Homo sapiens: one gene and its partner. The protein of the gene in region 1 interacts with the protein of each later gene in a biochemical or structural test. Each region holds a gene or a part of one and is shown in the gene's direction. Other genes may lie near its edges.

Region 1 (3,500 bases):
ATACAAAAATTAGTTGGACATGGTGGCACACGCCGTTGGTCCCAACTACTCGGAAGGCTGAGGTGGGAGAATAGTTTGAGCCCAGGAGACAAAGGTTTCAGCCAAGATCACACCACCACACTCCAACCTGGGCAACAGAGCTAGACCCTGTCTCAAAATAAATAAAAATAAAAAAGAGAGAGAGAGAGAAATCCACCCTCTCCGCCTCCCAAAGTGCTGGGATTACAAGTGGAGCCACCACTCCCAGCCAATAGTATTCCTTTTTTCTATTTGATGGATTAGACTTTGCTGTGTTTGAGTGCATTAGAAACATAAAGGACTTTTCATCATAGGAAATAATTTGCAAACTCTTTGTGTAAATAATGCACTTAATTTATTTATTTTGATATTGTTTATATATTTATTATTATAGGCTAAATAAACCCAGTGACATCCATTTGAAGACCTAGGTAATAATGATGTTTAATTATGAACAAATGTGCTGAGAAAAGAGCCCAGATAATAGGTTTGAAAGCCCAACCCAGAATTAAAATTGAGCTGTCTCTGCTTATTCAGAAGGCCTCTAAGTAGATGGTATTTCAGCAAAGACAGGAGAATTTTCCCACGTGCTTCCAGAAAAGGAAACACTATAAGAAACAGGATGAGGGTATAATCAAGCTCACTGTGTGTGATTTGGTCCCAGCAAGAGCGCCTAGAATGAATTTCTCTTTTCTTTTTCTTTTCTTTTTTTCTGGGGCAGAGTCTCACTCTTTTGCCCACACTGGAGTGTGGTGGCAGGATCACGACCCACCTCAGCCTCCCAAGTAGCTGGGACCACAGGCACATGCCACCATGCCTGGCTAATTATTTTGGTAGAGACAAGGTCTTGCTGTTACCCAGGCTGGTCTCGAACTCCTTGGCTCAAGCAATCCTCCCACCTTGACCTCCCAAAGCGCTGGGATTACAGGTGTGAACCACCACCCTCGGCCCTAGAATGGATTTTCAAAGGAGTGTCTACTTTCCCCTTCTTTGGTATAGTTTAGTGTTAGTGTTGCTCCCACAGTCTCCCACTGTGGTAGGTAAGATTTCACTGATAGTCGATGGTCGTGAAATATTTGATGTTTCTTTTTTTTGAGACGGAGTCTTGCTCTGTCACCCAGTCTGGAGTACAATGGCGCAATCTCGGCTCACTGCAACCTCCGCCTCCTGGGTTCAAGCGATTCTCCTGCCTCAGCCTCCTGGGTAGCTGGGACTACAGGCACGCACCACCAGGCCCAGCTAATTTGTGTATTTTTGGTAGAGACAGGGTTTCACCATGTTGGCCAGGTTGGTCTCAATGTCTTGACCTTGTGATCTGCCTGCCTCAGCCTCCCAAAGTGCTGGGATTATAGGCGTGAACCACCGCGCCCGGCCAGTATTTGATGTTTCTGAAGTATCTTGCCCCATTGGTTTATGTTTTATTGTCACCTCAGACTTGCTTTGTTGAAGGCTTGTCTTGCATTGACTGCTCTGAGGTCTTTCAGATGAGAATGTAGAAAAATGAGTTGTGTTTACTCTTTGATAAAATATGTATTCTATATAATATGTACATTATATACAGATGTATCTAATTTATATACTAGGTAATATTTGATAGTCATGCAAATGATTTTAAAATACCTTTTGTGTACTTGTAACCATATATATACATATACATGTAAAAATATACATATATGTATTTTTGTAGAGACAGGGTTTCACCATGTTGGCAGGCTGGTCTGGAACTCCTGACCTCAAGTAATCCACCTGCCTTGGCCTCCCAAAGTGCTGGGATTACAGGCGTGAGCCACTGTGCCCGACCAGGAGTAGGGCATTTATGCCAGTGATGTTTTATGTAATCAAACCCAGCAGGGCAGAAATGTGAGTGAACATCATGGAGAATCAGATTTTCACTCATAAAGAATTTGCCTTATATCAAGCTGCCCAAGAAGAGAAGAGCTTCCTGCAGGGAGGGGTGGTTGGAGAAATGTCTGAGGTATATGAATGCTTTTCAGGAATGTTATAGAAGCAAGCTACCCTTCTGAGCTAGGGTTAGAGTCTAGATACCCAGGATGGTCCTAGTTGATGCTCTTGCCCTGGAGTAATTATTAGTAGTCCCAATTCAGATCATAAATTAGTTCATCACAGCCTTGCATGGTGGCTCACACCTGTAATCCCAGCACTTTGGGAGGCCTGGGCGGGCGGATCACCTGAGGTCAGGAGTTCAAGACCAGCCTGGCCAACATGGTGAAACCCCATCTTTACTAAAAATATAAAAAATTAGCCGGCTGTTGTGGCGTGCGCCTGTAGTCCCAGCTACTCGGGAGGCTGAGGCACGAGAATCTCTTGAACCCAGGAGGCAGAGGTTGCGGTGAGCCAAAATTGCACCACTGCACTCCAGCCTGGGTGGCAGGGCAAGACTATGTCTCAAAAAAAAAAAAGTTCATCACTCTACTTGTGATACCTTTTTAGATGCATATTATGTTTCTAAGTACCGTATACTGTTGTCCATTGGAAATACCTGATTTAAAAGCAAAATTAAAGCTGGGCATAGTGGTTCATGCCAGTAATCCCAACACTTTGGGAGGCCAAGGCAGGGAGATCACTTGAGCCCAGAAGTTCAAGACCAGCCCTGGGCAACACAGGGAGACCTGTCTCTACAAAAAATTTAAAAATTGGCTACATGTAGTAGCATTCGCCTGTATTTGGGAGGCTGAGGTGGGAGGATTGCTTGATCCTGGAAGTCAAGGCTGAGTATGATTGTGCCACTGCATTCCAGCCTGGATGCCAGAGCAAGACTGTCTCAGAAAAGATGGCAAAATTATTCTTTCTCACTCTGATTAGAATGAAAGTCTTCTTAGAAGGGGTGTGAGGGGGTGATAATCACAAAAGTAATACATGCTTGTAACAGATCCATGTTGTATAAAAGTATATAAAATGTGAATATATTCTTCCATACCTTTAAATCCAACCCTACGAAGGAGCTGGAGTTAGCATTAGCAGTTTGATGGCATCCTGCCACATTTTTTTGGTCCTTTCACAAGCGCACACGTGCACATTTGTGTTTGGATGGTCATCTTGTTACTAGAAATGCAGAGGTGTGGACCTGAGCTAGAACCTTCCCTCAAGGCAGAGAGTCTACACTTGTAACTGCTCTGACAGCAGGGCTTTTGCTTGTCTCCTCCTTCCAGGTGAGCATCACGGACTATGTGGTGTTTGACCAGTGCAGCTTATTTCAGACGATAATCCATGCCACTCACTCGGTGGCCACAGCAGCCCAAGCCCCCGTAGAAAAGGTGGCAGATAAGCTGCGCATGGCGTTTTGGTCCCAGCAGCTTCAGTGCCAGCCAAGCCTTCTCGGGGTCAATAACAGCGGTGTCTGGATCTCCTCGGGCAAGAATGAATTCCACGTCGCTAAGGGAAGTCTCATAGGTGGGTGAATTGCTGTAATTTTCACACTGGCTTTATAGGCAGCCTCACTTTAAAGCCAACATTTAAAGAAA
Region 2 (3,500 bases), on another chromosome or scaffold:
CTTTTCTTTTCCTGACCATCTCCTTGTTTATTAGCTTAAAAGGAAAGTAGTTAAAGGAAAAGAAAACAAAAATCTTTCATTCAACAAATAAGTATTGAACATAGGCTGTTTGCTAAGGGCCAGGAGATACAATGGAGGCCAGAAAGACTGAGGCCCTGTGGTCATTGAGTCCTGGTGGGGATGTCAGACAAGAAACAAGTGAATACAATAATTAGAGATTGGATTGGAAGAAGTATGATGAAGGAAAAAAAAATGGGAGGATGGCACATGGCAGATACCAGCCAAGAAGCAAAGGGTATCATTAGCTTGGGTTATCAGGAAAGACAAGAGGAGATAGTAGTAAACAGAAACCTAAAGGACGAGAAGATGCCAGCCATCCAGATAGGAATAGTGTGTGCCCTGCCCTCATGGAGCTCACCTCCAGATGGAGAGACTGATGAGTTGGGAGAGCATAGCACTGCTCTCATTGATGTACTCTGTGCCTGCCCACAGCTAATGATGCCCTGGGATGAGTTAACCCTGCGGGAGGAGGTGTCCTGGGGAGGGGCCGTTGGAGCTGAGTTCAGAAGGTTGAACAGGAATTTGCTAGATCAGAGGACCATATTTTATTTGTATATATAATGTGTACACAGTACCAAACGAATACATTATGTGCCTTATAAAAAGTTACGTACAAAAGGGAGTATTTTAAATAATGAAATTAAAATATGACTATGAAGAAAATGTGAAGTATGTTCTCCTGCCATTCCAATGCATTGTGTTACACGCATTCACCTGTGAAGACCCCTGAGCTAGAAGAAAGCGGTTGGACGCTGGGGTTTTGCAGGGGTGGGGATTGGCGCTCATACAAGGCCTGGAGCAGGAACAGAGTTGGGAACTGGGGGAGCTGCAAGTAAGCAGAGTGTGGAAAGAGTTGAGGGATGGGCAGGGAAGTGGCCAGAAAGAGGCCTGGTGAAGAAAACAAGGGCTTGACCCCAAAGGGCCTAAGTCTTGAGTCTGGGATTTAAATTACCTAGGGCGGGAGTGGCCAACACATGGCTTCAGTTGAAGGGAATGACACAAAGAGATTTATGATTAAATTCCCTTTGCTTTTAGCCCATTCCACAGTTTCAAAAAGAAACAAACAATGGCTTATTATAAGAAACAACAACTTAATTATGTGTTTGCAGTTGTTAAAATGATGAACATTATCTGTCTTATCAAACATACATATAAAAAAGAACATTTTAAATGGTGAGACTAAATTGTAAATATGAAGGTAGATGGGGACAGGGATAATTCCCACTTTATTGAGCCCCAGGGATGTCATCACATGGTTGTATTTCTTGCATTCGCTCTGTGGAATTCTTAAAAAACTATAGAACCGCGTGAGGTTGGTATATTTTTATTTTTTCCTTTTACCAGTTGTCTGAGATCCCAGGCTGCATGTCATCATGTGCTGTTCTGATTTAGTCCTTGCTGCCAGGGGTCCTCCGTACTCTCCAGCCTTCGGAGGGACTGAGGGAGCAAACTGCACTCAAATATCTAGACATTTGGCTCCAGGAAGCAGCAGGGTCAGACTTGAGCCCGTGGTTCAGAACATGAGCCCATGTTCTACAACTTACCATCAAGAACATGTTTTGCCATTTAGCACAGATGAGTTGGCTGTTCCTTGTTTACATTCATAATTATTCCTCCACCCTTTGTTACCAGTTTTGAGAAACAACTTTAATAAATTAAGATTCACTTCACAATTAGGTGTTTCACAAGCTATAGCAAACAAAAGAACCCAAACCAAGAAGACCTATTCCCTGCCCCAGGTCTAAACCACACCAAAGCCTACTGTTGGAAATTGCTCAAAATGGAGAGGCCTGTGGCCAAGTGATTGTTGGGAAACCTACTGTGTTAAAGCCAGTGAAGATGGTGTTCAGTTTCCACACTCACCAGGTGCAAAATGACATTCCAACCCCACTGGAATACAGTTCTTCCCTGTGCTTATCAAAGAGCATGTCTAAGTTATTTTCTTTTTCTTTTTTACAAAAGGTGCTTTAAGTACAAGCCAGACCTGATTTTGTAGCTTGCATTAGTATTTTCAATTTATGTGGTCTTTTTGCAAGAACTGCCTGCATGGTCCCCAGAGGAAAATTTAATTCCATGTGCATGTGTTTGCCATAGTGTTTTTCAAAATTTGCCCTGATTAGCAGAAATAGCATCATGAAACCTGAATGTATTCTGCACTGTTGCCTGGAAAATCTGGCAGGTCATTGAGTACATGCTAAAAAGCCAAGATGAGCAACAATGCACACACGTTGTTAGTTACTAGAAGAATACAGTACAAATGATGTCTGTGTTTCCCAAGGAATTCCTGTGTTAGATGCTTGGTTGGGTTGTGAAATAGCCCAGCCATAGCTCTGACATAAGGCTTTTCATTGCATGATCAGTATGCAATACTCTTAGCAAAATCATATCATTCATTTGTTAGTCCTCATAACCCTAAAGAAACAGCAGCTAGTCTGTTGTATCAAACCTCTCACTTAAGCCTTTGGGAAGTGTACTTTATCGTTAGGTACCCTTGCTATGAAAACAATCCCCTTTCATTTCTCTCTTACTCAAGGCAGCAAAACAAAATAAATTCCAAGTCATATTAGTTCACCTTGATAAATAGCTGTAACTAACTCTCTTAGGAGAGGAGCCAAACAAACTAAGAATAAAGAGATGCCTTTTAAGAGAGAAATCTAGCTTTTTTTTTTTTTTTGAGACGGGGGTCTCACTCTGTCACCCAGGTTGGAGTGCAACGGCACAATCTTGGCTCACTGCAACCTCTGCCTCCCAGGCTCAAGCCATCCTCCCACCTCAGCCTCCCAAGTAGCTGGGACCATAAATGCTCGGCTAAATTTTTGTATTGCTAGAGATGGGGTTTCACCATGTTGTTCAGGCTGGTCTTGAATTCCTGAGCTCAGGCGATCCACCAGCCTCGGCCTCCCAAAGTGCTGGGATTGCAGGTGTGAGCTGCCATGCCTGGCCTGCTTTATGTGCTTTTTGCATCCTTCCCCACCCCTCACCACTGTCTCAGTTTAATCTCACTGCTGGTGTTTGTTCTTGCTTCTTCCTCTCTGATTTTTGCTTGAACTTTCTAGTACTCCTTAAGAGTTATTACTTATGTGCAATGTGGTATTTTGCAAAACAAACGAAAGCCAAAATCCTATCCCCTATCTCCCTCTTTCTCTCCAGCCAAGAAATGCAAAGTGGTTAAATCAGAGTAAACACAGATCTCTTTTCATTTGATATATTGACATCACCTCTTAGGGAACTCAAGCTTGTTCATAAATCTTTTGTGGTCCATTGAGACTCTTCAAGTTCATCTAGTGGAATATTCCATAGCCTGAAATGTTGGACTTCTGAATTCCTGTGTGTTTTGAGTTTTCTCAGTGGGAGACAATATTGCACACAGAGCATGTAATGTGCAAGAGGATCCGCTTCGCCTCAGTTTGAAACTGAGCCATACCACTTTTTAGCTGTGT

The links.
Region 2: the proteins of TECPR2 (region 1) and PDZRN3 interact in a test that uses a peptide from one of them, tested with the Homo sapiens proteins (one large-scale study listed by IntAct).

Annotation. Positions count from the first base shown.
Region 1 is NC_000014.9:102,446,441-102,449,940, forward strand, and holds part of TECPR2 (tectonin beta-propeller repeat-containing protein 2), read left to right. Parts: intron 1-3,188; coding exon 3,189-3,429; intron 3,430-3,500. UniProt on the Homo sapiens protein: Probably plays a role as positive regulator of autophagy.
Region 2 is NC_000003.12:73,604,442-73,607,941, reverse strand, and holds part of PDZRN3 (E3 ubiquitin-protein ligase PDZRN3), read left to right. Parts: intron 1-3,500. UniProt on the Homo sapiens protein: E3 ubiquitin-protein ligase. Plays an important role in regulating the surface level of MUSK on myotubes. Mediates the ubiquitination of MUSK, promoting its endocytosis and lysosomal degradation. Might contribute to terminal myogenic differentiation.